Regions from separate parts of the Homo sapiens genome. Here all the other regions are reported to be linked to region 4. Evidence: microRNA targets listed by miRTarBase, many of them from high-throughput screens and not tested one by one. Region 4 holds a microRNA gene; each other region holds the end of a gene's coding sequence.
The links. Region 4 holds the annotated microRNA hsa-miR-1277-5p (AAAUAUAUAUAUAUAUGUACGUAU, at 1,242-1,265, opposite strand). A microRNA usually pairs through its seed, bases 2 to 8, with sites in the 3' UTR of a target mRNA and lowers its output. Matches are read on the target gene's strand: a 7mer-m8 pairs with bases 2 to 8, a 7mer-A1 pairs with bases 2 to 7 and ends in A, and an 8mer does both.

Region 1 (4,000 bases), not on the chromosome of region 4:
CTGGGACACAGCCTGCCTCGCACCTCCTTGGTGCAGGCCTGGCCTGGCTACACACTGGAGACTGCCAACACTCAATGCCATGAGAAGATGCCAGTGAAGGACATCTATTTCCAGTCCTGTGTCTTCGACCTGCTCACCACTGGTGATGCCAACTTTACTGCCGCAGCCCACAGTGCCTTGGAGGATGTGGAGGCCCTGCACCCAAGGAAGGAACGCTGGCACATTTTCCCCAGCAGTGGCAATGGGACTCCCCGTGGAGGCAGTGATTTGTCTGTCAGTCTAGGACTCACCTGCTTGATCCTTATCGTGTTTTTGTAGGGGTTGTCTTTTGTTTTGGTTTTTTATTTTTTGTCTATAACAAAATTTTAAAATATATATTGTCATAATATATTGAGTAAAAGAGTATATATGTATATACCATGTATATGACAGGATGTTTGTCCTGGGACACCCACCAGATTGTACATACTGTGTTTGGCTGTTTTCACATATGTTGGATGTAGTGTTCTTTGATTGTATCAATTTTGTTTTGCAGTTCTGTGAAATGTTTTATAATGTCCCTGCCCAGGGACCTGTTAGAAAGCACTTTATTTTTTATATATTAAATATTTATGTGTGTGCTTGGTTGATATGTATAGTACATATACACAGACATCCATATGCAGCGTTTCCTTTGAAGGTGACCAGTTGTTTGTAGCTATTCTTGGCTGTACCTTCCTGCCCTTTCCCATTGCTACTGATTTGCCACGGTGTGCAGCTTTTACTCGCCACCTTCCGGTGGAGCTGCCTCGTTCCTTTGAACTATGCCCTCACCCTTCTGCCCTCACTTGATTTGAAAGGGTCGTTAACTCTCCCTTACAGGTGCTTTGACTCTTAAACGCTGATCTTAAGAAGCTCTCTTCATCTAAGAGCTGTTACTTTTTCAGAAGGGGGGGTATTATTGGTATTCTGATTACTCTCAATTCTAATTGTTATATATTTGAGCCCATACAGTGTATTAGGTTGAACCATAGAAACTGCTATTCTCGTAGGTCAAAAGGGTCTAGTGATGGAAGTTTTGTAGATAAGTACCAGGCATCTCAGTAACTCCTAGACTTTTTCTCATCCCATGCCCCGTTTTAAATTGTCAGTTTTCCCTCTGACTCTTCTGTGTTAAAACATGAAACTATAAATTTAGTAATTATCATGCCTTGCTCTTTTTAATCTATATGACTGATGCAAGCCCCTCTTCTTAACCGTTTCTTGGCTTTGAGCCCAGAAACACAGCTCTCCCTGTCTCCAACTCCAGTAAGCCCTCCTCAGCCTCACCTTACGAATCCAAAGAACTGGGGTTTGTTAGGTTCTTTCTCTAATGTAGAGGCCCAGATCCCATCACAAAGTTTTTCATTCTTCCTTGTCCACCATGATCTTCATCACAGTCTTTGATATGTCTGCATGCAAAGTGGAACAGAGTTGGGCGGCAATGACAGAAGAGCTTCCTTGGCCTGACTCGGTGTGCGGCCACTTCGGCACTGCTTAATCCAGATATTCTTGTTAACTAAGCATTGTGCTTCCCAGGTGGTCTGAAGTCAGGTACTCTCTCTCTCAACACCTGTAGTTGAATATGATTTGGTCAGTTGCTCGTTGTAACTTGGAGAAATTCCTATAAAGTAAGATCTCCTTGCCTCTTCCATCCATTGTTGGCACCCCCTTGCAAAAGGAAAAGAACAGCAAAAGTCAGGAGCAGTAATCTGAGAAAGTTAACTCCAGGATAGGTAGGTTTCTATTGTTATAGCTAGATGTAAATCTTTAGTTCCAAGAAGTGATAGAGTTTCTGCTTTAATAATTTGTTGATAAGTTTACATAAACAGAAATAAAAGATACTATCTTTACCGTAGTAGTTCAGGCCAAGATTATGCTTAGTTTTAGTTCTCCAGGTAGTTACTTTTGCCATGTCCTATTGATCAGTGACACTGCCAGAGGCCCATACCGGCAAGAGGAAGAGGACGTCATTTTGTAAAGTTTAACTTCTTAGCGAACTGATGTGCCACCCAGTCACAGAGTGGAGTTGTGAATTCATGTAGAGGTGGCAAACCTCTACCTTGTGTTGATGAGAGAATAATCTTGGGCAGTCTGGGAAAATAAGGAAGGCATCTCCTTCTTACTCATGGAGATTCAACTATAGAGAGTTGAAACCTAAACCCGCCTTCCTTTTATAGAAGCTGGACTAGAGACGGACTGACCATCAGCTCTGAACTGTGGCTTTTTTTGTTCACCTATGATGCCATGTACCAAATTCAGAAGCTATCGTTAATAATTTGTTTTATAATTGAGTAGTACAAGCGAGGAAAAAATACGGAGGATAACCACTATTTTTGTGCAAATAATATGAAAGTGAAGTAAAAGCAATAGAAGAAATTTCTATAGGATCTGGGTTTAGAGTGTGTATCATTAATAAATATACCTTTGCTCTTTTCAGGGAAAATAACAACCACCCTTACTGATAGTTGGGAAAAGAAGATTGGGTTATTTTGCCATATCATTTAGCTGGAAGTGACATTTAAAAGCACCCTGCATCACTAGTAATAGTGTATTTTGCTATTCTGCCCTTGTAATCGGTGTCCCTGTAAAACAATCCCCACAGATTACTTTCAGAAATAGATGTATTTCTCTACGTAAGGGCCAGGTTTATTTTCTCCTTTTTTGAGATTTCTAGAAAAAATGCTGCTTGCACATGTTGGTTCTTGAAACCTTAGCTAGAAGAATTTCAGGTCATACCAACATGTGGATAGGCTATAGCTGTTCAGAGGTCTCCTGGGGGAGCTTAAAACGGGGGAAACACTGGTTTTCACAGATGCTCCACATGGCTGTCTTTAAAAGACTCAAAACTTTTTTTTGTCCTCTTTGTTATGCTTGGAAGCTCCCCCCCCCCCAACAGTGTGTCGAGTCTTTGCAAAGAAACCTTTAGATGTGGTTCATAGATATATGAATACGTATCTGTGTAAAACAGTGAGTGTGCAGTGTGTAAATACTTTAAATTATTATGCTAGAAAAATAAAGTTACATACCTTGCTGTGGAATGTCTGTTCTGTGATTATAGGGACACCTGCTGGAAGAACTGAGAGCTGCAGAAGAAAGGGAGTCGGGGGAGGGGGAATTGTATAAAATCCCTAAAGGTTACTGATAAGTCATGCCACCTGCCCACAAATTCGCTGATTTTCAAAACTATAGCATTACTGTCATTTTTTTTCTTTTGAAATTTTAAGCAGTTACAAATCCGTATCAGTGAGATTGGTCCACTAGTATTGTCCCAAAGTTCTGTCTTTAGTAACAGTTTTGGTCCCTTGAAGACATACAGCCTGCACTCTAGTTCTTTTTAAGGTGATGTGAACAGTAACGACTTCCTCCTGGTGGGGAGGATTTGGGAAGGCAGGATTTTCTGGCTTTGAAAACAAATCCTCACTTCTTGGGTTTTAAAAAGAGACATCAAGAGATCACAAGTTGGTCTTTGTTCAAGAAACACACCAAAGGGTAGAAAAGTTAGGAAAATAACTGAAACAAAAGGCACAGAGAAGCACTGTTACTTGTATTAGGTAGAATACTAAATGGATCAGATTCTGACTGGGATAAACATACATGTAATCATTTCTTCTTTTTTTTTTTTTTTCTTTTGGAGACAGGGTCTCACTCTGTCACCCAGGCCAGAGTGCAGTGGTGCAGTCTCAGCTCACTACAGCCTCAACTTCCAGGGTTCAAGTGATCCCCCCGAGTCGCTGGGGCTACAAGTGCATGCTACCATCCCCAGCTAATTTTTGTATTTTTTGTAGAGACTGAAGGCAGGGTTTCACCATGTTGCCCAGGCTGGTCTCAGACTCCTGGACTCAAGCAATCCGCCTGCTTCAGCCTCCCAAAGTGCTGGGATTACAGGCATGAGCCACCACACCTGGCCATAATCGTTTCTTAAAGAAAAAAGCTTAACCATTGCAGTTGACTATTTACATGTAGCAGTTCAGAGCAAAAA
Region 2 (4,000 bases), not on the chromosome of region 4:
GCCCTTTTCTTGCTCAGGGAGCCTAAAAGCACCCCTTCTAGGGAGTCCTCCTAAAAATAGTGGGTTATTTTTGAATGGGTAAGATTTAAATGCTCTTTGGTTTCCCACAGAAGCAATCTGATCTCAGATCAAGCATCAGAAAGGGGCCAGGGGCATGGTGGCTCACGCCTGTAACCCCCGCACCTTGGGAGGCTGAGGCAGGCGGGTTAAGAGTTCAGGACCAGCCTGGCCAATATGGTGAAACCCTGTCTCTACTAAAAACACAAAAATGAACTGGGCATGGTGGTGAGTGCCTGTAATCCCAGCTACTCAGGAAGCTGAGGCAAGAGAATCGCTTGAACCCAGGAGTCGGAGGTTGCAGTGAGCTGAGATCTCGCCACTGCACTCACTCCAGCCTAGGTGACAGAGTGAGAACCCATCTCAAAAAAAAAAAATATCAGAAAGGGGCCAAGCGCAGCAGCTCATGCCTGTAATCCTAGCACTTTGGAAGGTCGAGGCAGGAGAATTGCCCGAGCCCAGGAGTTTGAGACCAGCCTGGCCAATATATAGGAAGACTTCATACCTGGAAAAAAAATTTTTTTTTTTTAAAGAATCAGACAGCTGTGTGTGCCTCATGTTTAAATCTGTAACTTAGAAAGTCCCTTGTTTCCCAGGGCGACCTCCGGCGGATGTGGTCTGAGCCTTTCCACTCCAAGTCCAGCAGCTCCCGATTCCTGGAAGTATGATGGATCACGTGGAAAGTGACCAGATGGCCGTCATAGTCCTTTTCTCTCAACTCATGGTTTGTTTCCTCTTAGAGCTGGCCTGGTACTCAGAAATGTACCTGTGTTTAAGGAACTGCCGTGTGACTGGATTTGGCATTTAAAGGGAGCTCGTTTGCAGGAGAGAGGTGCTGGAGCCCTGTTTGGTTCCTTCTCTTCCTGCGGATGTAGAGGTGGGGCCCCTTCCAAGAGGGACAGGCCTCTCCCCAGCGCGCCTTCCTCCCACGTTTTTATGGATCTGCACCAGACTGTTACCTTCTGGGGGAGATGGAGATTTGACTGTTTAAAAACTGAAAACAGCGAGGAGTCTTTCTAGAACTTTTGAACACTAAAAGGATGAAAAAAATTAGCAAACCGAAGTTTCTTCAATGACCCCTCGAGAACTTTGGGACCAGTTTCCTATAGGGGACTCAGTTTCAGAGAACTGAGACAGAAGCTCTTCTGTCGTTATATTCTTCTTTCCTTTTTTTGGATTTATTAAATATTTTCTGTGGTGTGAAGTGACTTATTAAATCCACAGACATTGAGTGACTTCTTACAACATCCACATAAGAATTTGTTGTAATGAGTTCATGTCCACCCAGATGTTGTGTTGGCAGTGAACAAGGGCACGGTTTTTATACATACGTACATATATATATATAAACACACACATAGATATATATGAATAAACAAAAATGAAATCCTGCTAAGATCACGCTGTGTAGCTGACAGGGGCTTGCTGTCGTTTTGAGCATGTCGAGCAGTTTACTGTGGCTTCCTTGTATATGGATAAGCTGCTGTCCTTCCCCTTCACAACTGACCCCGCAGTTACAAACTAGTATAGCATTTGTGCTGATTGATGATAGACTCATGGACTTCAGGAGCCCTTACTTGGTTTTGATCAGTGTAGCAAATTAGGGATGAAGAGTTCAAACCTTTTGGCCCTTTCTTTCTTTTCTAGGCTTCTCCCTCGCAGGGTGTTCCGTAGTTTCTTCTCGAGCCAATGCATGTATTATAGCAGCAGGTGTCTTTGTGCTTTCTCATCATAGTAACGTACTACTTGTAAATACATTTTTCTATTTTCTATTTTTTTGTATTTTTTTTTTTGACATTTTGTTTCATTGGTGTGCTGTATATTTTCCATGCCCTCACTCCTTTAAGAAAAAAAAAAAGGAAAAAAGCAACACAATCCTGTCCTTGCTGTTGTGATTATAGTCTTGGTTTACCTGTGGTGACAACCGGGTGTTGGGGACACATGTCAAATGCCCCTCTGAGATGGGCCCTAAATTCCAGTAACTGGGGAAAGAACCAGCTGCTGTGTCCTGAGAGCCTGGCCCTGTGCTGTGGTCTCTGCTGCAAGCCCAGATTTCTGGGAGTAACTAGTGTTAGGTCTGCTGACCTTTACCTAAGCAGCCCCTGCCTGGTAAGAAGGTGCCCATTGTTCAGAGGCAAAGAGAAGCCTGCGGTTGGCATGAGGATGCCTGACAACAAAGGCTGGAGAAGGGCCCTGAGTTCCAGCCTCTCCCCAAGGGTCCCCGCCCCAGTGGCTGCCTCTGTCTTGACCTGTGTAATGAATTAGTGTGCTGTGTCACTGTGGCTTGAAGTCACTGTGGATCGAGCTCACAGGGGGCACCCATCCTGTTGTCAACAGAGTCTGAAGCAGTCAGGGTGTTGGATTCCTCTGTTGTTGTCATCAATTCCTGCTGAGGGGTTTCTGGGGTTTTGTTTTTAATAAATGACTCCTTTGTAGCCTTTGTCACATAATCTTCACTTTGGTTGTTGGTACCAAACAGAGCTCCCAGCCATCTCCTCCCTGTTCTGGAAGACTGATGGGAAGACTCTGTCTGTCCCCAGACCTGGTCATCTGCAGCTCTGGCCCAGTCATAGATACATCAAAGAACTGAAGCTTCTGCTGTCCACAGAACTCAAAACTGCCTCTGCATTGGGTGAAGACTAAAAATCCACTTGCGGACTCTCCCTTCCTTCCTTCTCAGCCCTCGAGGATGCATATAGCTAATTAAGCAGGCCCAGAGACAGAGAGGGGGGCTCCAAAATGACTCGGATTAAGGGCAAGTGCCAGTGATGGGTAGAAATAACGTTATCCTTCATGCCTGTAATCCCAGCACTTTGGGAGGCCGAGGCAGGTGGATCACAAGGTTGGGAGCTCGAGACCAGCCTGGCCAACATGGTGAAACCCCGTCTCTACTAAAAACACAAAAATTAGCTGGGCATGGTGGCAGGCGCCTGTAATCCCAGCTATTTGGGAGGCTGAGGCAGAAGAATCGCTTGAACCTGGAAGGCGGAGGTTGCAGTGAGCAGAGATTGCGCCACTGCACTCAAGTCTGGGCGACAGGGTGAGACTCCATCTCAAAAAAAAAAAAAAAAAGGAAATGTTATCCTGGCAGTGGGTCATTTTAATTTTTCTGTCTTTGTTTTCATAAGAAAATTAAATTCCAGACAGAAGGAACGTCGTTATTTTGTCATTCTCACTTCTGTGCAGGTTTTGGGGGGAAATACCCACACAGGGCTGTGAATGCACCCTGGATTCCAGTTGCTAATCTTCAAAGCCCTTAAAACACTCCCTTAAAACTTTGGCAGAGAAACAGCAAATACTCTACTCGTCTCGGAGGGTTGAGTGGGTGGCTGCAGTTAAAGCACACATTAGACTTCCCTTCCAGTGCTCGTTTGCTCCCCGCTGCCTGATACACTTAGGTCCGCCTCTTATTCTGTTTTCTCAAATACCATGGTTTAGGGGTTTTCTAGGAAGTCTGCTGCATTAGGCATGGCATGCTCATGAAATTTCAGCAGATTCCTTCCTCACTGATCTGAAGTCCTTTTTCCTCACAAAGAGACTGTGTGTTACTAGAACTCCCGCTTTTTAATAACTCTTTTTTCTAGTTTGAGCTAATGAAGATATGACAGTAAAGTCTGTCCAAAGCCTAGTGTGTTCCATTGCTGTTATTACAGTGCATACGCTTTCTGAATGTGACAGTGACAGCTCCCCGCATAGGAACGGTTCGGTGGCTTGGGACTAAGCTACTGTCTGAATTACTTTTGTAGCAGGCTCACAGGCCTTGGGTAAACAGGTAAGTTAGGTCACCCACAAGAAAAACAAAAGTACTCGTTCTCTGTGAGGGTGGAGGGGAAGGGAGTTCCATTTTGCCAATCAAGTGTTAAAAATAGAACCTGCTGTGTCTGCTTAGCAGCTCTCACGTTACTGCTCACCAGATCCCATGTTGTGTGTACGTTTCTGTTTT
Region 3 (4,000 bases), not on the chromosome of region 4:
ACCATTTGACCCAGCCATCCCATTACTGGGTATATACCCAAAGGATTATAAATCATGCCACTATAAAGACACATGCACACGTATGTTTATTGTGGCACTATTCACAATAGCAAAGACTTGGGACCAACCCAGATGTCCATCAATGATAGACTGGATTAAGAAAATGTGGCACATATACACCATGGAATACTATGCAGCCAAAAAAAAGGATGACAAGGACATGGATGAAGCTGGAAACCATCATTCTCAGCAAACTATCACAAGGACAGAAAACCAAACACCGCATGTTCTCACTCATAAGAGGGAACTGAACAATGAGAACAGTACTTGGACACAGGGCGGGGAACATCACACACTGGGCCTGTCAGTGGGTGGGGGGCTGGGGGAGGGATAGCATTAGGAGAAATACCTAATGTAAATGATGAGTTCATGGGTGCAGCAAACCAACATGGCACATGTATACCTATGTAACAAACCTGCACATTGTGCACATGTACCCTAGAACTTACAGTATTAAAAAAAAAACTCAGTAATATATTTAGTTAAGGAGCTATAATTCACATAGATTATATAGTACACAATACTAAATAGATTTTTTAATGTGCTCTGTTCTCTGAAAATAGAAATTAGATCTTCCACAAAAATTGACCTATATAAACAACACTTTACACAGTAATATTTTGGTACCTACGATTATGTACAGAGGGAAACCTGTTTCTATGTGGACTCCAATCACAAATGACTCCTTCTGAAGGAGTGTAAAAATTATTCCCATGAGCTGGGTGTGGTGGCACGCACCTATAGTACCAGCTATTTAGGAGGCTGAAGCAGAAAGATTTCTTGAGCCCAGGAGTTCAAGGCTGTAGTGAATTAAGACTGTGCCACTGCACTCCAGCTGGGGTGACAGAATGAGACCTTGTCTAAAAAAGAAAAATGTTCCCACTGGCAAGAATTCTGTTGTTTTGATATCTCCCAACACAGGAAAAGAGAATTAGAGAGGGGCTAAAACTGCTGGGCCACTCTAAGAGAAGAGATCCCAACCCCAACTAAGAATATAGGCAGTCTACACTGTCCAGATAGTAAGGCAAGGATAAAATGATGTAAAGTTAATAAACACTGTACACTATGTGTAAAGCAAATTCTTATAAATACACAAAGACTGAGAAATTTCTACCAAAGTATGAATACAAAACAAAAATGTGAAATCTTGGTTCAAACTGGCATGGCACTAGTTAACAGTGGACATTTAGGTCAGACAGAGTCAACCCAAAAAGAAATCCGGGTGAAAACAGAAACTTTTTCCTTGGCTAGTGAGTTTTAATTGGATATTTCTTGAAGAACTTTAACTTTTCTCTCATAATTTCCATCTATTGCCTTTGTGCTCTATGTTTATGCTAAGCACACTGCCACATGTTTTTGTTACTTTACTGTATTCCCTTCAGCCTCTATATCTTGTCTATCACTGACATAAGGTGTTCAGCACACTTTTCTTCACCCAAAATTGCTGTACCACGCCCCCCAAATTTGCTAGTATTTGAGAATGGACTACGTAACTCATTTAAACCAGGGCAGCAGAATCTGCCAGCACTAGACTTCAAGGGCTAAGTTAGGTCTGAGCCTATTATATGGCTTTTAAGGGTGAAGGAACTGAATAATACATTATGAAGATTAATATCTCAGGGTGACTAGACAATTCTTCATGCTGGGCTAGTTCACCTCTTTGGGATGGAGGACTGGGCTCTAAGAAGAAATATCTTCTAGTATTTAAAACCAAAAAATCCCACATCTTCTCAGGACAGAATCAAGTGAGAAACAGATGCTTCAGTCAAACTGCCACTAAACAGTGATAACTATAACATTTTGCTCTGATACAGTAGACTTTTTATTTGTTTTGGAAAGTGATTCTAAGATTTTTACAAATAGAGTGTCTAGTCTACAGAGCAATACTACTGAGTTTGGTGACTACAGGAAAGTAATAGTTCTTGCATAACAATGGAAAAAGTTAGTTGTACTGTACTTTCTAGTTTGGAAAGTAATATATTGCTATGTATATAGCCAATAATAAATTTTATTTAATATGTAAGTACTAGTTAATAAAAAAATTCCTGATTTTTTCTACTTTGAAAACTAAAAAGTAAGAGATAAGAAAATTTTAAAAATTTACCATTTAAGTCTCTTTGATTCTGGAAATATTTTAATTAGGTTCCACTTTAAAAAAAAAGTAGCTTCCTTATGACCTCCACAGTGAGTACATTAACTACATTTTCACAAACAGAAAACTTACATACATTCAACTGTTTACAAGACATGTCTCCATATAACACATTTACATTCATGTGAAATCTATGAACTTCTTTAATTGCATATATTTATGACTCTTACATCTGGTACCTTTTAAAACAGCTAACATATAGTATGCTTATTTCCTATAAGTTAATTAATATATGACTATTTAAGGTGAGAAGAGTCTCATTTGAAGAATTACAATAGTTATATTCATACCATGGGAAATCAATAGTTTTTCTAAACATAAATTTCAAGCTAAAGCTTTAGCAATTTAAGTTATTTAACTACCAATGCATGAAATTCTTATCAGATTGTCCCATTTGGATTACAGTTTAAGTCATTTCAAGCTGTTCACAATTATTTGTGCATTGGTGGGGGGGAAAGCACCAAGGATAATAAATTGATTTTTCACATCACAGATGAAATCACAGCGCAATGATTTCAATATCCCTTCAAAAATCTAATCATTTATAAAGAGCATTTATTTCAAATGCTCAATCTTTAAGCTTTCTTAGTGTGATCAACTGATACACTAGGGATAAGAATGGAAATGGTTAAAAACAGATGCTATACATAATACTTACTAACTTAACAGAATTCAGATTTCTCCTAACATTGTTGATTTCCATTTTTGAACTGACTTCTTTAGATCTAAAAAGAACTCTGAAAGTAAGTGTAACATTTATACACTTGTCAACTATACTTAAAAAGAAACTCTGAAGGTGCCTTTCTTGTCAAAATACAAAACAAAAGTTTTCCTGATGAACAAGGCACCTTGTATGGTAAGGAAATATATAAAGAAAATATTTTCTACAAATTAATATATAAATCTATGTGCACAAAGGTGTAGTTCTCCCAGCTGCATATGTAATATTTTAAATAACACACAATAAAAAAATTCAAAACACAGATTGAAAAAATAACCCATGTGGCTAATACTCCAGTTGTTAAATATTGCAGCATATATGTCACTGTAACAATTGGGAAAGATATTCTAATCTAAACGGTTAATGAAATCTCTTTGGAAAGACACTTTAAAAGTCCCCAATATGTAACCCTGGCTGTCAAATTTCAATCTAGAAGTTTTAACAGCTAAGATGCAATCCCATGAAAATAAAAGTGTGCACAAAGGCCAGCTCATCAGACTCTGCAGTACATAGCATTACTGCTGTGACTTTGGTACGAGCCTGCTGGGCTTTTATGTTCCTTTTCATTACTATGTGCACATGGTAAACATCATATTAACAACAATCGATTTTTATCACTATAAGTTTTGCTGCTCACAGAATGCTAACAAACATTGTTTTAAACATTTCCAGATCATGACAACAGTTCCTTACCTGAACATAAACAAAGAAAACCTTAGATTTAAAAACATTTTTAAGTGAACACATAAATGCATAAGGAGAAACATAAGAACATACTATTTTTATAAGTATAAAAAGTTCCAGCTTCTGCTAAGATTTCATTTCTTTTTCCCAGTGTTTTTTTTGTGTTCATGCGTTTCTGTTTTGCTAGTTATATTCTTTTTCCGAGATGAGGTATTAGGAACAACTGCACTAGAAGGTCCACTTGTAGCTACATAAAACAAAAACAAAAAAAAAAAACTATTGCTTAAATTTACACAAACAATCCAAGTTCAAATAATACTGCTGATTGACAAAACAATTCTTGTTATAATTGTGATGTAAATGAAATGTAAAAATTTAATATA
Region 4 (4,152 bases):
AAATACAAGAACAAAAAATAAAAGCATTTTACAAAATATTGTCTCAAGGATAAATTACCAATTAGAATATGAAAAGGACTTCTAAAAAGACTGAAATGTCTTCAACCACAAATGTGACAGATTCATGAAACATTTGCTGAACATCAGCCATGTACAGAGCGCTATACTAAAAGAATATAAAAGCTGTTTGAAATATACCATATAAATATGATGTCTGCTATAAACTAATATTGACATTGTATCTTTCCAACCTTTTTAGACACATCTTGTTTCAATTCTTGTACAGGGGACTCATTTCCAACTTTGTATGCAGTGTTCTCTGTTTCCTGTTTGAAAAAGAAAAGAAATAGAGACCAAATGATGACATCTTTTCTTTAAAAATATGCTTTAAAGGGGTACAAATGAGAAAATGTAGCATTAATAAATCAAAGGCCCTTAAAGGGCTTTGATTTCTTCTTCTTCTTTTTTTTTTTTTTTTTTTTTTGAGACAGAGTTTTACTCTGTCACCCAGGCTGGAGTGCAGTGGCACAATCCTGGCTCACTGCAACCTCTGCTTCCCGGGTTCAAGTGATTCTCCTGCCTCAGCCTCCCGAGTAGCTGGGATTATAGGCGCGTGCCACCACACCTGGCTAATTTTTGTAATTTTAGTACAGACAGAGTTTCACCTTGTTGGCCAGGCTGGTCTTGAACTCCTGACCTCAAGTGATCTACCCACCTCAGCCTCCCAAAGTGCTGGGATTATAGGTGTGAGCCACTGTGCCCAGCCTAAAGGGCTTAGATTTCTGAATACTGATAGATGCTCAGAAATTTTATGCCAAATGGGACAATGTAATTTGCATAAGAAAGTTACCCATCAGCAATATTCTATTATTCTGCAATAGGATATTTACCTTTAAATGTGAAAACTTGCTCAACTTTTTAACATTAAAAAACTGTAATGGACGATAAGAACTTCTACGTACTTTTATAGCTAAAAAGGATTAAGGATTTAAGCAAGGGGCTGAATAAAAATTGTTATTTTCCCCAAAGCATTGCTCCATAAATATGCACAAATACAAAAGTTTATAACACAGAAAACCACATTCAGGGAATAGTTTTCTTAAAATTCTACATGCTTTAGATAAAAGAAATCAAGACTTAACCAGAAGTTAAATGAAGCCCCTAAAAAAACTATGAAAAAAGATGAAAAAAATTAAACCCACCAAAAATACATATATATCTACGTATACATTTATATACACATACGTACATATATATATATATTTGGGAGGTTAGAAATGGATACTGCATTTCTGCTGGAAAAAATTAGGGTAAAATAAGACAATCATATATTTGCAAATCTCAATACAATACTCTTCTCAATCTTAAGTTGTCTATTTATAGAAGCACAGCAATTTGAATGCTACTCTTGATACTGAGGAAAAAAAACCATAATTCTTTGTGCACATCACAGAGTTTGTTAGAGGAAGGTCATTATAACCATTTTAGACAGATAAAGGACTCAAGGCACATTAATTATTTAGGTGGCACTTATACAAGTATCAGGATATGATCACAATAGGCTCAATAATGAAATTACTCCAGAGATTATTAAAATGTTAAAGATTTAACGTGCCAGTGAAATTTCTGTAGGACTTGCAATATCTTCGAGCACTGAATTCCTCCCCCAGAATTTGGAGAATACTACCAATCTTACACAGATTCTTCTAGAAAAAAAAAAATGTTTCATGGACTCTTAAGTATTAGATAAAATCCAAACAGTACCAAGGCCCATGAAGGCCTAAACATGACATAGCCTCTGCCTACATTTTTGATATCTTCTACACTCCTCATCTCCCTCTCATATCACTCCCCCACAATTACATTCTGGCCAATAGGATGATTCCTTGCCATTAGGGTCATAGCTCAAGTGCTATTTTATCAGAAAATACTTCCCTGACCATCTCAAAATAGCCTTAGCTGACTCCTTAACTTTCTATCACATTATCCTATTTTTCTTTTTTTTTTTAACTTTAAGTTCAGGGGTACATGTGCAGATTTGTTACACAGGTAAACTTGTGTCATGGGGTTTTGTTGCACAGATTATTTCATCACCCAGGTATTAAGCCTAGTACACATTAGTCATTTTTCCTGATCCTCTCCCTCCTCCCACCCTTCACCCTCTGATAGGCCTCAACATGTGTTGTTCCCCTCTATGGGTTCATGTGTCCACATCATTTAGCTCCCACCTATAAGTGAGAACATGCAGTATTTGGTTTTCTGTTCCTGCATTGATTTGCTAAGGATAATGGCCTCCAGCTCCATCCATGGCCCTGCAAAGGACATGATCTCGTTCTTTTTTATGGCTGCATAGTATTCCATGGTGTATATGTACTACATTTTCTTTATCCAGTCTATCATTGATGGGCATTTAGGTTGATTTCATGTCTTTGCTATTGTGAATAGTGCTGCAATGAACATGTGTGTGCATGTGTCTTTATAATAGAATGATTTATATTCCTTTGGGTATATACCCAGTAATGGGATTGAGGAGAGGATGTCAAACTATCCCTGTTTGCAGACAACATGATCTTATATCTAGATAACCCATAGTCTCAGCCCAAAAGATTCTTAAGCTGATAAACAACTTCAACAAAGTCTCAGGATACAAAATAAATGTGCAAAAATCACTAGCATTATTATACACTAATAACAGCCAAGCAGAGAGCCAAATCAGGAATAAACTCCCATCATTTGCAATTGCCACGAAAAGAAAATACCTATGAATACAGCTAACTAGGGAGGTGAAAGGAGAACTACAAACCACTGCTCAAAGAAACCAGAGATGACACAAACAAATGGAAAAACATTCCAAGCTCATGGATAGGAAGAATCAATATCGTTAAAATGGCCACACTGCCCAAGGCAATGTATAGACTTAATGCCATTACTATTAAACTACCACTGAGATTCTTCACAGAACTAGGAAATTTTATTTTAAAATTCATAGGGAACCAAAAAAGAGCCTGAATAGCCAAGGCAAATCCTAAGCAAAAAGAACAAAGCTGGAGGCATCATGCTACCCGACTTCAAACTATGCTACAGTGCTACAGTTACCAAACAGCATGGTACTGGTACAAAAAGAGACACACAGACCAATAGAACAGAATAGAGAATACAGAAATAAGACCGCACACCTACAACTATCTGATCTTCGACAAACCTGATGAAAACAAAGAATGGGGAAAGGCTTCCCTACTCAATAAATGGTGCTGGGAAAACATTATCCTATTTTCCTTCATTGCACTTATCGTTCGAAATGACCTTATTTACTTGCTTATTTTTTGTCTCTTCCCTGTCCCACTAGAATGTAAGCTCCATGAGAGATGGACCTTGTTTGTTCTATCTACAGTTTGTTCAGTACCTAAAACAGTGTCCAGCACTAAATAATCATTTGCTGAATGAATGTTGAATGATGCATGCTCTGTTTTTTCTTCAGTTAATACATACATCTTAAGTTTACATAGGCTTTAATTGGATCCTGGTTTTATATGAAAGAAGGCCGGGCACAGGCTGAAACCCGGAGTTTGAGACCAGCCTGGGCAACACAGTGAGACCTCGCCTCTAAAAAAAATAATAATTAGCCAAGCATGGTGGTATGTGCCTGCAGTCCCAGCTACTTTGGAGGTTGTTGTGGGAGGACTACTTGAGCCTAGGAGCCTGAGGCTGCAGTGAGCTATGATAATGCCACTGCATTCCAGCCTGGGGAAGAAAGCAAGACCCTGTCTCAAAAAAAAAAAAAAAAAAAGAAATTAAAAAAAAGAAATAAAAATCTAACCAAGACCAATTGATAAGATAACCTTGACAAGGTGGAGAGAGAATACTTGGAAGCTGATCACCATTAAGAGAATACTTGGTCCAGCCTGGGACAGAGCGAGACTCTGTCTCCAAAAAAAAAAAAAAAAAGAATACTTGGAAGCTGATCACCATTAAGAATAGTTGATGCTCTCAGCAGAACGGGGTCCGCAGGAAAAAAGAAAAAAATAAATAAATAAATAACAGTTAATGCATATTAGAGAAACACCTTCAACTGTCCTACTAATTATTTTTATCCAATTATTTTCTAATAACTGTTTATCAGTAGGAAAATCAGAAGCATTGTACAGCATAATT

Region 1: miRTarBase lists RGMB as a target of hsa-miR-1277-5p. Seed matches in the 3' UTR shown: 7mer-m8 at 373-379, 7mer-m8 at 386-392, 8mer at 597-604 and 7mer-m8 at 974-980.
Region 2: the mRNA of SPPL3 is a reported target of hsa-miR-1277-5p. The part of its 3' UTR that is shown has no 7-base or 8-base seed match.
Region 3: the mRNA of PPIP5K2 is a reported target of hsa-miR-1277-5p. Seed matches in the 3' UTR shown: 8mer at 3,105-3,112, 7mer-m8 at 3,076-3,082, 8mer at 2,439-2,446, 8mer at 2,034-2,041 and 8mer at 531-538.

The regions. Positions count from the first base shown.
Region 1 is chr5:98,793,436-98,797,435 of GRCh38, forward strand. It overlaps RGMB (repulsive guidance molecule BMP co-receptor b), which reads left to right. Exons shown (of 3, transcript NM_001366508.1): 3 at 1-3,059. The coding sequence ends at 318. Among named protein-coding and RNA genes, the nearest start is that of RGMB, 22 kb to the left of the region's middle.
Region 2 is chr12:120,761,724-120,765,723 of GRCh38, reverse strand. It overlaps SPPL3 (signal peptide peptidase like 3), which reads left to right. Exons shown (of 11, transcript NM_139015.5): 11 at 654-3,214. The coding sequence ends at 725. Among named protein-coding and RNA genes, the nearest start is that of ACADS, 38 kb to the right of the region's middle. RefSeq lists a silencer at 2,463-2,626.
Region 3 is chr5:103,201,386-103,205,385 of GRCh38, reverse strand. PPIP5K2 (diphosphoinositol pentakisphosphate kinase 2) reads right to left here. Exons shown (of 31, transcript NM_001276277.3): 31 at 1-3,864. The coding sequence ends at 3,752. Among named protein-coding and RNA genes, the nearest start is that of MACIR, 55 kb to the left of the region's middle.
Region 4 is chrX:118,383,514-118,387,665 of GRCh38, reverse strand. It overlaps MIR1277 (microRNA 1277), which reads right to left and starts at 1,272; the gene lies at 1,195-1,272. It overlaps WDR44 (WD repeat domain 44), which reads right to left. Exons shown (of 20, transcript NM_019045.5): 3 at 252-326.